Linked DNA regions of Homo sapiens. The protein of the gene in region 3 interacts with the protein of the main gene of each other region in a pairwise test. Each region holds a gene or a part of one and is shown on either strand. Other genes may lie near its edges.

The links.
Region 1: the proteins of FKBP8 (region 3) and RETREG3 interact in binary tests that used the Homo sapiens proteins (3 or more experiments, as listed by UniProt).
Region 2: the proteins of FKBP8 (region 3) and CXCR2 interact in binary tests that used the Homo sapiens proteins (3 or more experiments, as listed by UniProt).
Region 4: the proteins of FKBP8 (region 3) and SLC71A2 interact in binary tests that used the Homo sapiens proteins (3 or more experiments, as listed by UniProt).

Annotation. Positions count from the first base shown.
Region 1 is NC_000017.11:42,582,195-42,585,374, forward strand, and holds part of RETREG3 (reticulophagy regulator 3), read right to left. Parts: intron 3,069-3,180; coding exon 2,931-3,068; intron 1,387-2,930; coding exon 1,304-1,386; intron 613-1,303; coding exon 480-612; intron 77-479; coding exon 1-76. UniProt on the Homo sapiens protein: Endoplasmic reticulum (ER)-anchored autophagy regulator which exists in an inactive state under basal conditions but is activated following cellular stress.
Region 2 is NC_000002.12:218,124,619-218,128,827, forward strand, and holds the start of CXCR2 (C-X-C chemokine receptor type 2), read left to right. Parts: upstream 1-1,409; 5' UTR 1,410-1,735; intron 1,736-4,209. UniProt on the Homo sapiens protein: Receptor for interleukin-8 which is a powerful neutrophil chemotactic factor. Binding of IL-8 to the receptor causes activation of neutrophils. This response is mediated via a G-protein that activates a phosphatidylinositol-calcium second messenger system.
Region 3 is NC_000019.10:18,532,764-18,537,816, forward strand, and holds part of FKBP8 (peptidyl-prolyl cis-trans isomerase FKBP8), read right to left. Parts: intron 5,011-5,053; coding exon 4,838-5,010; intron 585-4,837; coding exon 507-584; intron 33-506; coding exon 1-32. UniProt on the Homo sapiens protein: Constitutively inactive PPiase, which becomes active when bound to calmodulin and calcium. Seems to act as a chaperone for BCL2, targets it to the mitochondria and modulates its phosphorylation state.
Region 4 is NC_000009.12:94,377,569-94,381,068, forward strand, and holds part of SLC71A2 (hippocampus abundant transcript-like protein 1), read left to right. Parts: intron 1-3,500.

The DNA of each region.
Region 1 (3,180 bases), on a different chromosome or scaffold from region 3:
GGATCCATATTAATGGAAGGGAAGTCTGGAAGGTCTCTGGCAAAGGATTCCTCTGGATCACTGTGACCATCTAGGTCTGGTGGAATACAGAAGTGTCTGAGTCATGGCACCTACCTGGCCCTCCTGTGCCCCAGCCCCACATGACCAGATTTTTCCCACCCTGGCTTTCTCAGGGCGAAATAAACCCATGGGACTGGTATACCTTTCCCCTCCACTTATAGGTGGCTGTGATCTCTACACAATTCCCCCTCTCTTCTATGTCCCCTGTGAGGCTAGTGCCTGAGGCTACTAAGGGACTAAAGTCTTCAAGAAGGGCAGCAGTGCCATCCTGGCTGTAGCCACAGCACTCAGGCTGCTCTGCCGCCTGATCCATAGCTCAGAAAACAGGAGAGGGGCAAGCACCAGTATCCCCTCTGTTCAGGGAAGCTAAGAGGCAACAGTCAGAGCCATTATCAACTGAGGTCAAAGGCTCCCCTCACCTTCAGAGCCTTCCGTTAGAGGTGTTTGGCCCCTTGAAAGATTGAATGTGCCATTGTCTGTACAGGAGACTTCAGCGTCTGAGTGCTCAGAGTCTGTGATGGCCAATTCCCTGGCAACAGTAGAATCGTCCAGCTTAGGAAAAGACCAACAAATGTGAGATAATGCCATCAGGAACCAGGTGTAGTCACCAGGTACAGCTTTACTAATCAGCTAGCATTAGTTATCCGAAGGCCATCAAATCAATGTAACCAGGGATAGATGGTAACTTCCCGTTGAAAACTCCCTCTCCCCTTTATTTTTTTTTTAATCAATACATGTGAAAGTAACAACAACAAAAAAAATCTTGACCCCTTTTAGGCTGCTCTCCCAAAGAAAACACTCATTCATAACCTCTTAAGCACAGGAAGAAAAGCAGTCTTGGGGGAGTCAATTACCCACTTACTTTAAGGCAAATAATTGATCCAGAGATAATTTTTCAAAGTGGTAGGAGGATACACATACTGCACAGACCCAAGGGTGAACTGGGCTGTTTAAAAGATGATCATACTAGCTCCAGAAGTTCTTCCATAATGGTAGGGTAAAAAGAGATACGGAAGAGCGGTGCTGGGCATCAGGCTCTAATTGAGACCTAGGTTGATTACAGGAATGATATGATAAAGAAAAAAATTGAGATCTAGGAACAAAGTCTCACTTCTCTCCTTGTCTTGGGAACAAGGGGAGTCTAAGGCCTCAAACCTGGTTATGGCCTAAATGTGAGCTGTCGGATGGTTAAAAGGTAGCTAAAGAAAACTGGACAGTGAAGCAGCTCCCACACTCAAGATACCTGAGGACAGAAGGCAGCAAGCTCCTCTTCGCTGTCACTGTGGTTGTCCATGGCTCGTTCTGGGTGGAGAGCTCTGCGGCGTACTGTGGGAAGAGCACAAAGTCTTGCTTGATACCTTCTCCCAGCGTAAAATCCCCTTTGGACTTTAAAGACATAAAATCAGAACACAAAACAAAGAGCCTCTCTGAATCTGGCTCTAAGCCTACATAATAATAACAGAAGGCTGAGCTGCTGAGCCTAAATGCAAGGTGAGTTGAAAACACTGGAGAAAATATCTCAGCTTCCAACATCCTCTCCACCAGACCCTACATATTTCTTTTTTCTTTTGAGATGGAGTTTTGTTCTTGTTGCCCAGGCTGGAGTGCAATGGCGCGATCTCGGCTCACTGCAACCTCTGCCTCTTGGATTCAAGCAATACTCCTGTCTCAGCCTCCTGAGTAGCTGAGATTACAGGTGCTCACCATCACACCTGGCTAATATTTGTATTTTTAGTAGAGACGGGGTTTCATCATATTGGTCAAGCTGGTCTCGAACTCCTGACCTAAGGTGATCCGCCCACCTCAGCCTCCAAAAGTGCTGGGATTACAAGTGTGAGCCACTGCGCCCGGCCTGGCACACATTTCTATTCTGGTCAGATGATCAAATACCAGGCTTTGTCAACAACTCTCTGGATGGCTAAAGGCAGACCTAATGTCAAGGTGTTAAGTGGACATGATCAAAGAGAGGGCAAAAGGAGATGCACACCTTGTTAAATCAGACTTTTGAGGACTGGTATTATTCAACTGGCTGCCCCAAGGGGACTTGGGCCTTGGTGACCAAGTGCAGGGCTCTTTGAAGGCCAGGCCTCCATAAAACACAAAACCTGACAAGACCACACAAGGGAGGGAAAAGTTTGTACTACCATCATTGTGTTGCATGGATCTCAGGCTAGTACACTTACAACCTCTGAGGCAGCAGTTTTTAATCACCTTTGGGAGGCAGCTTTTACTAGTGAAGAGACCAGGCTTAGGAGTTGAAAGGATCTGCTCTGGGCTCAGCACGGTGGCTCACACCTGTAATCCCAACACTTTGGAACGCCAAGGCAGGAGGATCGCTTGAGCCCAGGAGTTCAGGATCAGCCTGGGCAACATGAGACCCCATCTCTACAAAAAAATTTAAAAATCAGATAGATGTGGTGACACATGCCTGTAGTCCCAGCTACTGAAGGGTTTGGCGGGGCTGAGTAGAAGGATCACTTGAGCCTGGGAGGTCAAGGGTGCAGTGAGCCATGATCATGCCACTGCACTCCAGCCTGGGAAACAGAATGAGACCCTGTCTCAAAAAAAAAAAAAAAAAAAAAACAAACCACAAATACTAGGAATTTATCTTCACTGTCTAGCTTTTATTCAACTTGAAAGAGCTTTTATCAGATAGGTTTAAAACGGGAGCCTAGGATTACAAATGATAAAAACTGGCAAGCCTGCACAGGTTTCCCTAGAACAGAATATCATTTTTACCTATCAATCCTCACCCCCACCAACTACCCCCGACTTCCACTTTTGAGGACCCACCCAGTATGTCAGACCTATGGGCTTCTCCTTTTCGCCCCAAATTGCGTAAGTGGAAAGAATGACACCATGACACTTACATTGTCTCTCTCTCTGCTTGGACATCATGTAGCCACGGACACTGAAGTCTAGCCGCTGCAGAGCTGGCTTCAGCCGCACATATGCTCGATCCCACAGTCGGTGGTACACAGCAAGGGGCCACATCATGACAGTGACAACTGTGAGGAGGCATGGGAAACAGTGACAAAATGGAGAAGGGGCTGCAAAAAACATTCCCAACTGTAGCGCTGCTATTGGTCCTTAGGGCTTGGACACAAAGTGTGGAACAGA
Region 2 (4,209 bases), on a different chromosome or scaffold from region 3:
CCTGTCATGCAAACCTGAATCTGGGGAGTGCTCCTCCCGTGGGGATGCAATCACCCTGATTTGTTCCAGGAAGGCTGTCTATAGGTGCATCAATGCTGCGTTCCTTTGGGAGAAGCCCCAGCTCTGTCTGCAGTGGCGTACCAGGGGGAACAAGGATCCCTTCTCTAAGACCCTTCACAATACCAGAGGCTGCCTGCCTATTGGGTAGAGGTGCAAACTTTCCCCCACTCTGCCCAGCACAGCAATTGTCTCTGCAATAGGAAACTTCCCACCAGTGAAAAGATCTGGGACTCAAGCCCTGCCATTCAGATTCTTTTGTTCCACAGGGTATTCCCTTGATGTGATGTTCTTCCCCTTCCTCTAGGAATGGGACTTCCTGGAAGCCAGACTACAGTGCTCTTCTGGGTCTAGCCACCCAGTGGGCCTACCAGACTCTGGGCTGGTGCTAGGGAATGTCTGCAAGGGATCCAGTGGTGTTACCTGTCTTCAAGACTCCCAGCAGTGAATACCAGCACCATCTCTGACAGAAGTGGGAGGGGAGTGATGCAAACTCTGCAAGATTCCTTGGTTGTAGATAGACTTAGAGTATTGACTTTCTCAAATGCTGGTTATAATTATAGTGAACTTATCACGTGGACAGACGCAGGACTTCTGGTTAGCCAGGGTGTTGTAAGCAGTGGTGATAGCTGAGAATATGCAGCCGTTTTCTCCTTCCTGGGTACAGTGCTATTCTGCCTAGAGGTGAGTTTTTGCCTGTCTCACAGAGTAGGCTGCAGCCTGCCACTTCTTTCAAAAGTTCTGTGGATTCTTTCAGCTTTCCTGTTCAGTTCCTGCATTCGTTCCTGGAGAAAAAAAAATTATAGTGTGAATCTCTACACGCTATTCTGTCCTTCCAGATGGGAGAGGCATGCTAATGCTGCCTCCAATCTGTTGTCTTGGGGGGAAAGAAAGCAATTTGTTTTTGTTTTTTTTTTTAATGGATTTGCTGGGTTTAGTAACCCAGAGGTCATTGGGAACCTTGGCGAAAGTTATTTCAGTGGAGCAGTAGGAAGGAAGCCAGTTGCAGTGTCTTTGTTGAGCAGCAGAGGGGAGGTGAGGAAGTGGAGAGAGCAGCTGTGGTGGCTGAAGGGTGCTAGGACAGAGGGAGCATGATAAAGCCATAAGTAAGATGTGGTAGAAGGGAAAGAGCCAGGACAGAGGGGAGAGAAAGCAGGATCCTCAAGGACCAGAGAGGCAGTGGGTCCCACAGTCAGGTGCGGGGATTCAACAGAAACAGAAGGAGGGACGCTTCTCACTCTGACCCCGGAAAGAAGGAAGAAACTGCGTGCGAGTTCAGACAAGTCCGTTGGCGGGGGCTGGGATGCCTGCATCTTCCTTGTTAAAAAAGGAAGTGCAGGTTCAAAACATTCAGAGACAGAAGGTGGATAGACAAATCTCCACCTTCAGACTGGTAGGCTCCTCCAGAAGCCATCAGACAGGAAGATGTGAAAATCCCCAGCACTCATCCCAGAATCACTAAGTGGCACCTGTCCTGGGCCAAAGTCCCAGGACAGACCTCATTGTTCCTCTGTGGGAATACCTCCCCAGGAGGGCATCCTGGATTTCCCCCTTGCAACCCAGGTCAGAAGTTTCATCGTCAAGGTTGTTTCATCTTTTTTTTCCTGTCTAACAGCTCTGACTACCACCCAACCTTGAGGCACAGTGAAGACATCGGTGGCCACTCCAATAACAGCAGGTAGGTGACTTGTTCAGTCTGAGATGCTGGCAACATATTTCTAATGGAAGAGATCTGGAAACTTCAGCCTCCTCTGAGGCCCCTGAGAACTGGGGTGATGAAGTGTAGAAGCTTAGAGCTAAAGACAACTAAGTCTTCACCTAGACAGTGTTGCACAAAAGAATTTTCTGCAATAATAGAAATGTCCTAGACCTGCCCTGCCCAGTATGGTAGCCACTAGTCACACGTGGCCACGGAGCACTTGAAATGTGACTAGTGTGACTGCGGATCTCAATTTTTATTTCATTTTATTTTATTTTATTTTTTCTTTTTTGAGACAGGCTCTCACTCCAATGCCCAGGCTGGAGTGCTGTGGCATGATCTTGGCTCATTGCAACCTCAACCTACAGGTCTAGGTGATTCTCCCACCTCAGCCTCCCAAGTAGCTGCAGCTACAGGCATGTGCCGCTACACTCAGCTAATTTTTTGGGTTTTGTTTGTTTGTTTGTTTTGTTTTTGTTTTTGTAAAGACAGGGTTTCGTCATGTTGCCCAGGCTGATCTCAAACTCCTGGGCTCAAGCGATCCGCCCACCTCGGCCTCCCAAAGTGCTGGGATTACAGGCATGGGCCACCTTGCCTGGCCTTTATTTTAATTAATTTTAATTTAAATAGCTACACATGGCTAGTAGCTAGCATGCTGAACAGAATAGAATTAGAAGAAGCTCCCGTTTTCCAAAGGCACACAACAAGGCCCAGAAAGAATGACTTCTCCAAGCAGGATTAGAAGCCAGGTTTTTGTTTTGTTTTTGTTTGAGACAGGGTTTTGCTCTGTCGCCCAGGCTGGAATGCAATGGCACAATCTCGGCTCACTGCAACTTCTGCCTCCCGAGTTCAAGCAATTCTTATGCCTCAGCCTCTGGAGTAGCTGGGATTACAGGCGTGCGCTGCCACGCCTGGCTAATTTTTGCATTTTTAATAGAGGCGGGGTTTCACCATGTTGGCCAGGCTGTTCTGTAACTCCTGGCCTCGAGTGATCCACTCACCTCAGCCTCCCAAAGTGCTGGGATTACAGGCATGAGCCACCGCACCAGAAGCCAGTTTTTTAATTCACTCCACCCTGCATATAACCGCAGTGATCTCCATGGAAATGAAATTGACCTAAGGAGCATGAAGAAGGAGGCTGACTGGGAAATGTCAAATCTGGGCTCCCCTCTCTACATCCTTTGTATCTGACTTTCTGGGACACAGGGAGGTACCTAATGGAGCTCAGAAACTTTAGGCTGGGATCCTGCTCCTTATTACAGTGAACAGGAGATAGGATTTGAGAGCAGATTTTTAGAAGTTTTTTAAACTGAAAACCTAGTTCAGCTGTGTCACTCTAGGTATGTTGCTTAACCTCTCAGAGTCTTCATTTCCTCTTCCAGAAAGTGCCTGCTTCGTGAGGTTATCCTGAGGATTAATTGATACAAATTCTGGAAAGCACTTTGCCCAGAAGCTAGAACCTGGTAGACACTCAACATTACAGCTAATATGACAATTAATATCCAGGTCAAAGTAAATTAGATGTCATCAAAGTCAGCCTTGAAAGCAGACCCACTGCCGACTGCTTTCCCTTGACTGGGGATGTAGTGAGAGAGGCAGCATGTTATCAGTGAATAAACTATTCCAGTAATAATGATCACAACAATAAAGGTTAACATTGTACTTTATGTATGTTTTACGTGATTTACAAGCAATCCCTCATTTCATCCTCACCACAACCCCATGAGTTGGATTCTGTATTGGCCCCATTTTACAGATGAGTAAACTGAGACTCAGAAAGGAAAAGTCACTTGCCCAGAATTGCTCAGCTAGCCCTGGTGTCATCTGCCTCTCTCCATATGTAATAAGCCTCTATCTGGTTTTAGCATCAACTGGCCAGGTGGCATTGCATTCTTCCCCAGCTTGGGAAAGAGAGGTGACAAAGACTAAGAAACATTTGCTGAACAGTTGGACTCAAAGATTCTTTCTTTGGGGTAGGCAGGCAATTTAAGTGCGTCTGCCACAGGGATTGAGTCCCCTCTGGGCCCTGGGATGCATGGAGCAAGAGATAGGGTAAGGAATAATGGAGGGGATTGAGGTGTTGTTCACTGGGGTGGGCACTTGTGAGACAGCAGAATTAGTGTTCATGGCTCTGCCTGGATTAATTCATTCATTTGTAATCAATAGCAAATTGATAAAATACATTCTTAGGGTCACTTAACATTGTTTTTAAAAATGCATTTGGACTTTGGTGGAATCTTCCCTTTTACCAAAAGGCTTTCTTTCCAAATTAGAGGGTCTTGGCTCCAAGGGTGGTAAGCTGCTGCAGAGTTGGTGTCCTCAGACCCAATGCCAAGTGTGCGAAACAAGAAAGAATATCAATACCCAGAGATGGACTTGTGGTCAGAGCAGATGGTTGGGGAGTGAGGGGAAAGACAAGAGGCAGGAGTGGGGCCAAGAAGTAGAGGCATCAG
Region 3 (5,053 bases):
TTCACCAGCTTTGAGAGCTCTGCGTGGATCGTCTGCAGAAGGCAGGGGAAGCTGAGAACACGCAGCGGCCAACCTGTCATCACTGGCGCTCTGCCTTACTGGGACCCTAGGCTGTTTGGGTGGTGGGACTGTTGGGACACAGGGGTCCCATCTGCCCCTTTCTGGGCTTAGCAAAGTCAGGGCTGCTGACCCCATCCCTCCTAGGGAGCCAATTGATGGCGCAGAGCACAAGGTAGCCAGGAGACAAAAGGTTCTGGAAGGAAGGCCAAGGACACTGGCATGGAGCAGGCTGGCAGTGCCCTCAGCTGCTGGAGGAGTGAGAGCCCAGACTGCCTGTGTGGCCGTCATGAGGGTCTTCACAAGCTGACCAGGACCCTTCAGGTACCTACTCCGTGCCACTGCCCAGGTGGGAACACAACAGAGAGCCACAGCAAGAAAGACCTGGGGCAGACCGCAGGAGGGACTTCCCAGCCGAGCAAGTCCCAGGGCACCCCTGTCCTGCTCACCTTGTTGGAAGGTTCCAGCTTCAGGGCTGCCCTCAGGATGGGGATGGCCTCACTGTACTCCCCCTGCTGGGCCAGCACCTGTAAGGGGAAGGGGGTGGCATCACTCTGGACCCATACCTGGGCCTGTCCTTCAAGAAATCCAGCCCAGGAGGTTGCAGTGAGCCAAGATGGTGTCACTGCACTCCAGCTTGAGCAACAGAGCAAGACTCCATCTCAAAAAATAAAATAAAATAAAAACAGCCTGGCCAACATGGAGAAACCCCGTCTCTACCAAAAAATACAAAAATTAGCCAGGCGTGGTGGCATGCACCTGTAGTCCTAGCTACTCAGGAGGCTGAGGTGGGAGGATTGCTTGAACCAGGGGGCAGAAGTTGCAGTGAGCCGAGATCACACCACTGCACCCCAGTCTGGGTGACAGAGTGCAACCCTGTCTTAAAAAAAGAAAAAAAAAAAAGGGTCGGGCGCAGTGGCTCATGCCTGTAATCCCAGCACTTTGGGAGGCCGAGGCGGGCGGATCACAAGGTCAGGAGATCAAGACCATCCTGGCTAAGACGGTGAAACCCTGTATCTACTAAAAATACAAAAAAAATTAGCTGGGCGAGGTGGCGGGCGCCTGATAGTCCCAGCTACTCGGGAGGCTGAGGCAGGAGAATGGCGTGAACCCGGGAGGCGGAGCTTGCAGTGAGCCGAGATCGTGCCACTGCACTCCAGCCTGGGCGACAGAGTGAGACTCCATCTCAAAAAAAAAAAAAAAGGCTGGGCGCGGTGGCTCACACCTGTAATCCCAGCACTTTGGGAGGTCAAGGCAGGCGGATCAAGAGGTCAGGACGTCAAGACCATCCTGGCTAACATGGTGAAACTCCGTCTCTACTAAAAAATACAAAAAAATTAGCCGGGCATGGTGGCGGGCGCCTGTAGTCCCAGCTACTCGGGAGGCTGAGGCAGGAGAATGGCGTGAACCCAGGAGGCAGCACTTGCAGTGAGCCGAGATCACGCCACTGCAGTCCAGCCTGGGCGACAGAGCGAGACTCCGTCTCAAAAACAAACAAACAAACAAAAAAAACAGCCAGGCTCCTGGCTACTCATACAAGTGCCAAATGGAGCTCTGGCAACATCCCTGGGTTCCAGCCACTCCCAAACTGCTCTCCTAGCCCTCAAACTCCATCAGTGCACACTTAGCTTGGCATTGGTCCCCGCAACATGCTCCTCCTTCCTGTCTCAGCTGCAGATCTAGGCACCCACCTCGCTGCCTCCTCCCTCACCACCTCCACTGGCGAGAGGCCGAATGGATGCTTCCAGAGGTTGTTGTTTTTTTTTTCTCTTTCCTTTAGAGACAGGGTCTTGATCGGTCACCCAGGCTGGAGTGCAATGGCATGATCATAGCTCACTGCAGCCTCAAACTCCTAGGCTCACACAATCCTCCAGCCTCAGCCTCCCGAGGAGCTGGGACTACAGGCGTGTACTACCATGTCCAACGAATTATTTATTTATGTATTTATTTATAAAATTATTATTACTATTGTTATTATTATTATTTTGAGATGGAGTCTCACTCTCGCCCAGGCTGGAGTGCAGTGGCACGATCTTGGCTCAATGCAAGCTCTGCCTCCCGGGTTCACGCCATTCTCCTGCCTCAGCCTCCCGAGTAACTGGGATTACAGGCACCTACCACCACCGGCTAATTTTTGTATTTTTAGTAGAGACAGGGTTTTACCATGTTGGCCAGGCTGGTCTCAAACTCCTGACCTCAAGTGATCCACCTGCCTCAGCCTCCCAAAGTGCTGGTATTACAGGCATGAGCCACCGCTCCAGGCCTACTTATTTATTTATTTTATTTTAGAGACAGGGCCATGTTCCCCAGGATGGTTTCGAACTCCTGGGCTCAACCAATCCACCTGCCTCGGTCTCCCAAAGTGCTGGGATTATAGGCGTGAGCCACCACGCCCAGCCCTTAATTATTTTTTAAATTTTTGTAGCAATGGGGTCTCACTATGCTGCCAAGACTGGTCTTGAATTCCTGGGCTCAAATGATCCTCCTACCTTGGCCTCCTGAAGTGCTGAGATTACAGGCGTGAGGCACCACACCTGGCCCTGATGTTTCCAAAGCTTTGGCCATAGTGAATGATTCAGGACCAGGCACATGACCCAAATGAGTCAATGAGATCCAGCCTGCACTATGCTGGTGCTGATGGGAGATGGGTTGCTAAGGGGAGAAGATGGAGCTGGGCGAAGTGGCTCACGCCTATAATCCCAGCACTTTGGGAGGTCAAGGCAGGTGGATCACTTGAGGTCAGGAGTTCAAGACCAGCCTGGCCAACATGGTGAAACCCCGTCTATACTAAAAATACAAAAAAAGGCTGGATGTGCTCGCTTGAACCCAGGAGGCAGAGGTTGCAGTGAGCCAAGATCGTGCCACTGCACTCCAGCCTGGGTGACAGAGCAAGACTCTGTCTCAAAAAAAAAAAAAAAAGGAGGGGGTAGAAGATGGAAATCTGTAACTTTCCAGGGGGGAGGGGGGAGCATCATGGTCACCCTGAGAGAGGAGCCGGCCCAGGAGGGAAGGTCAGAGCAGAGAAACAGCATCCCCACAATATTGTGAGTGCCTGGATCCAGCTATGCCTGAAGCCAGCTAATCCAAACTTGGCAGTTCCATGAGCTATCGATCCCTCCTTTCTGCTTGAACCTGTTTGAGTGGGTTTCTATCACCTTCAACCAGCAGGTCCAAACTTGTATGAAGCTACACAAGCAGCCACTCCTGCTGCCCCCAGGAGGATACTACCCCCAGGTTGAGAACAAAGCCTTCAAAAACAGGAACTGCATCTTCTCCCTCTTCATATTTCTCTGCAGAACTCCGCACACAGTATGTCCTTAATAAATCCCAGCTGGAGGGAGCCCCACCTCAGGCTTTTCAGAAACACAGCAGGTGAGCCAGTATCTGTGCCTCAGTTTCCTTCGTTAACTGCTAAAAGGTCCTGAAAGCCCCACCTAGGGGTGAGGCTGTGAGGATGAACAGAAAAGGGGGTGAGAATGAAGGTCAAGTCTGTGCAAGCCAGATTCACCCCTATGTTCTGCCAGAACTTTTTTTTCTGTTCTCGTGTTTTGTTTTTGACACAGGGTCTTGCTCTGCTGCCAAGGCTGGAGTGCAGTGGTGTGATCAAGGCTCACTGCAGCCTTGACCTTCGGGGCTCAAGCCATCCTCAGCCTCCTGAGCAACTGGGACGACAGGCCCGCGCCCCCACACCCAGCTAATTTTTGTATATTTTGGGTAGAGAAGGGGGTCTCCCTATGTTGCCTGGGCTCGTCGCAAATGTCTGGGCTCATGCGATCCTCCTGCCTTGGCCTCCTGTAATCCCAAGTGCTGGGATTACAGGAATGAGCCATTGTGCCTGGCCTCTGCCAGGACTTTTACTGAGCACCTACTATGTACCTGGCCCTGTTTGCAAGGCTGGAGATCCGGCAGTGAGCAAGACAGACCAAATCTCCACCTTTGAGTAAGGTAGATGGACAAGAGGCATGTCACCTCCACGTGCTGCCTGTCAGGAACATCTCAGACAGTCGGCAATGCCTACGCAAAGGCCCTGAGGTGGAGAGAGCCTGGCTAGACAGCAGAAAGGGAGAATGCCACGTGGGATGGAGAGAAGCAGAAAGTGAGGTGGGAGAAGTGATAGCAGGAGGGGGAAGACCAGACAACTCAAGGCCCCAAGGGCTGTGACTAGGATTCCACTTTACTCTGAGGAAAACTGGGACCCATGGAGGTTCTATGGGAGGAGGTTTCAACACTGGGCCAAGCCGGGCACGGTGGCTCAGGCCTGTAATCTCAGCACATGGGGAGACTGAGGCGGGCAGATCACTTGAGGTCAGGAGTTCGAGACCAGCCTGGCCAATATGGCTAACCACATCTCTACTAAAAATACAAAAATTAACTGGGTGTGGTGGCTCGCACCTGTAGTCCCAGCTACTTGGGAGGTTGAGGCAGGACAATCGCTTGAACCCAGGAGGAGGAGGTTGCGGTGGTGAGCTGAGATCACACCACTGCACTCCAGCCTGGGTGACAGAGTGAGACTCTGTCTCAAGAAACAAACAAACAAACAAACAAAAAACACTGGGCCAAAGGTTGGGGACCCAAGACTCGAGGATCAAATTCTGGCCTCAGCCAATGAATTGTTGTGACCAGGCCACACTCCTGCACCCGTCTGGGCCTCAGTTTCTCCACCTGCACCCCACAGAGCTCAGCTGGCTTATATACCTATGCCTTTCTCAAATGCAGGGTTGGGGACCACCCCGTATACCCCAGGCTGAGTGACCCGGCCTGGCACCCCGGTGTGGCCTACCTTGCCCTTGCGGAAGAGAGCCTTGATGTTGTCTGGCTGGTGCTCCAGCACAAGGCTGCAGGAGCGCAGGGCTGCGCGGTAGTGGTCGAGCTTCAGCTGCGAGGCCGCCAGGTTGTTCAGACACTTCACCTTCAACTGCAGGAGCTGTGCCTCCTCCTCGAACGTCATGTCCACTATTGGGAGACAGTGCCCGCCACGGCAGCCGTCACCATGCCA
Region 4 (3,500 bases), on a different chromosome or scaffold from region 3:
GAGATGAAGTCTTCCTGTTTCCCAAGCTGGTCTCAAACTCCTGGGCTCAAATGATCCTCCTGTCTCAGCCTCCCAGTGCTGGGATTATAGGTTAGAGCCATGATGCTTGGCCTGACAACTTTTTTCTACCTTATTTGGCAAAGAGATATATTGACCAGAAAAAGATACTGGCAGAGAGATGTCATAATCTGAAAAATAAAAGAGAATCAAGTATTTACTCCAAGAGATCATTTCCTTCTAGAAAAGGGAGGTGTGTCGCCGGGCACGGTGGCTCACACCTGTAATCCCAGCACTTTGGGAGGCTGACGTGGGCGGATCACAAGGTCAAGAGATCAAGACCATCCTGGCCAACATGGTGAAATCCTGTCTCTATAAAAATATAAAAGTTAGCTGGGCATGGTGGCAGGCGCCTGTAGTCCCAGCTACTCAGGAGGCTGAGGCAGGAGAATCGCTTGAACCTGGGAGGCGGAGGTTGCAGTGAGCTGAGATCGTGCCACTGCACTCCAGCCTGGCGACAGACTGCACTCCAGCCTGGCGACAGAGCGAGACTCCATTTCCAAAAAAAAAAAAAGGAGGTGTATGTTAGCTGTTTGCGTTGCTGTAAAGGAATACCTGAGAATACCTGAGACTGGGGAATTTATCAAGAAAAGTGGTTCTTTAGGCTGTACAGGAAGCTTAGCACCAGCATCTGTTTCTGGTGAGGGCCTCAGAAAGCTTGCAATCAGGACAGAAGGCGAAGGGGAAGCAGCTTATCACGTGTTGGGGAGGGAGCAAGAGAGAGAGGGGAGGAGGTGCCAGGCTCCTTTTAGCAATGAGATCTTGGCCGCGTGCGGTGGATCACTTAAGGTCAGCAGTTGGAGACCAGCGTGGCCAACATAGTGAAACCCCATCTCTACTAAAAATACAAAAATTAGCCGGGTGTGATGGTGCATACCTGTAGTCCTAGCTACCTGGGAGGCTGAGACAGGAGAATTGTTTGAAACTGGGAGGCGCCACTGCACTCCACCCTGGGTGACAGAGTGAGACTCTGTCTCAAAAACAAACAATAAACAAAACCAATCAGATCTTGTGGTAACTAATGGAGCGAGGACTCACTCATTACTGTGAGAAGGACACCAAACAATTGAGAAGAGATCAGCCCCCATGACCCAAACAGCTGCCACTAGACCCCACCTCCAACACTGGGGGTCACATTTCAACATGAGATTTGGAGGAGACAGATATCCAAATGCTATCTGCCTTAAAAACAAATTGGATAGTTTGGTTTTCTATTCTGTGGAAGAATTTGTGTAAGATTGGTAATACAGTTCTAGAACTTTATAGTTCTTGGCCTTTTGGAGATTAATTCTAGAACAGCGTAGGTTTTCTGTTTGATTTTTAGTTCTGTCAGTTTCAGTAAGTTGTGTTTTGTTGGGAATTTGCCCATTTTATCTAAAATGTCAAATTAGTTGGCATAAAGCTGTGAATAATGACCTCGTAGGCTCTTTTCACCTTCTGTAGGGATTCTTGGTGTGCATTTCCTTTTTTTTTTTTTTGAGACGGAGTTTCACTGTTGTTGCCCAGGCTGGAGTGCAATGGTGTGATCTTGGCTCACTACAGCCTCTGCCTGCCGGGTTCAAGCGATTCTCCTGCCTCAGCCTCCCATGTAGCTGGGATTACAGGCTTGTGCCACCATGCCCGGATAATTTTGTATTTTTAGTAGAGATGGGGTTGCACCATGTTGGCCAGGCTGGTCTTGAACTCCTGACCTCAGGCGATCCACCTGCCTTGGCCTCCCAAAGTGCTGGAATTACAGGCGTGAGCCACTGCGCCTGGCCCTTTTTTTTTTTTTTTTTAAGAGGTGAGGCCTCACTCTGTCATCCAGGCTGGAGTGCGGTGGCGCACAATCATAGCTTGCTGTAACCTTAAACTCCTGGGTTCAAATGATCCTCCTGCCTCAGCCTCCCTAGTAGCAAGGACTATAGGCACGTGGCACTATGCCTGGCTAGTTTTTAAATTTTTTTGTAGAGATTGGGTCTCACTGTGTTGTCCAGGCTTGTCTTGAACTCCTGGCCTCAAGTAATCCTCCAGCCTCAGCCTCTCAGAGTGCTGGGATTATAGGCATGAGCCACCATGCCTGGCTGGTACTCTGCATTGATAACTTGTGCTTTGTCTTTCAAAAAATATTTAATTTTGTAGGATCTTCTGGATAAATATTCACAAATATTGCACGTGTTGATAATTTTATATCTTATTTTGATGTTAAATGAACTAGAATATCCAGGAAAGTATTCAATGGTAATGGTAAAAGTGCATACAACCTCCTCTACGTAACAGGAATACATTAATTTTTTCTTACTGTTAGGTATCCTTTTGGCTGTATACACGTAAACATGCTTTATTACCCTATGGAAGCATTTTTGAAATTTCTCAGTTTCAGCTGGACGCGGTGGCTTACGCCTATAATCCCAGCACTTTTGGAGGCTGAGGCAGGCGGATCACGAGGTCAGGAGATTGAGACCATCCTGGCTGACGCGGTGAAACCCTGTCTCTACTAAAAATACAAAAAATTAGCCAGGCGTGGTGGTGGGCGCCTGTAGTCCCAGCTACTTGGGAGGCTGAGGCAGGAGAATGGCGTGAATCTGGGAGGTGGACCACGCTTGCAGTGAGCAGAGATCGTGCCACTGCACTCCAGCCTGGGCGACAGAGCGAGACTCTTTCTCAAAAAAAAAAAAGAAATTTCTCAGTTTCTTACATGTGTTCTCTCTTCCCCTTTTCCTCTTCCCTTCCTCCAGTTCAGCATGTCATAGAACTTTCACAAGTGGTTATGAAATCTTAGATATGCTATGGAGAAAGAGGTTATGGCATAGCAAGAGCATTGTTCTGTGAGAATTGGAGAGAAATCTATTCTTAATGTGTATTTATTTATTTATTTTTGAGACAAGAGTCTTACTGTTTCATCCAGGCTGGAGTGCAGTGGTGTGATTATGGCTCAGTGCACCCGGGAACTCCAGGGCTCAAGTGATCTTCCTGCCTCAGCCTCCTGGTAGCTGGGACTACACGTACGTCCCATCATGCCTGGCTAATTTTTAAATTTTTATTTGTAGAGATGTGCTCTTGCTTTGTTGTCCAGGCTGGTCTCGAACTCCTGGCTTCAAAGAATCCTCCTGCCTTGGCCTCCCAAAGCATTGGGATTGCAGGTGTGAGCCACTGTGCCCAGCATTAGTCTGACTTTTTTATAGTTAGCTTTGTATTTGCTTGTCTTTTTTAAACAACCTTATTCAGTTTAATTGACATAAAATAAACTGTGTGTTTGGAGTGCACAGTTTTGTGTTGTGACATATCTATACACCTGTGAAACCATTATCATAATCAAGATAGTAAACATATTCATCACCCTCAAATGTTTCTTTTTACCTCCCTCTACACCTCCATTTCCAGGCGATAATTTATCTACTCTGTCACTATATATTGGCTTGAATTTTCTTCCCCCTTTTTTTTTTTTTGAGATGGAGTTTCAC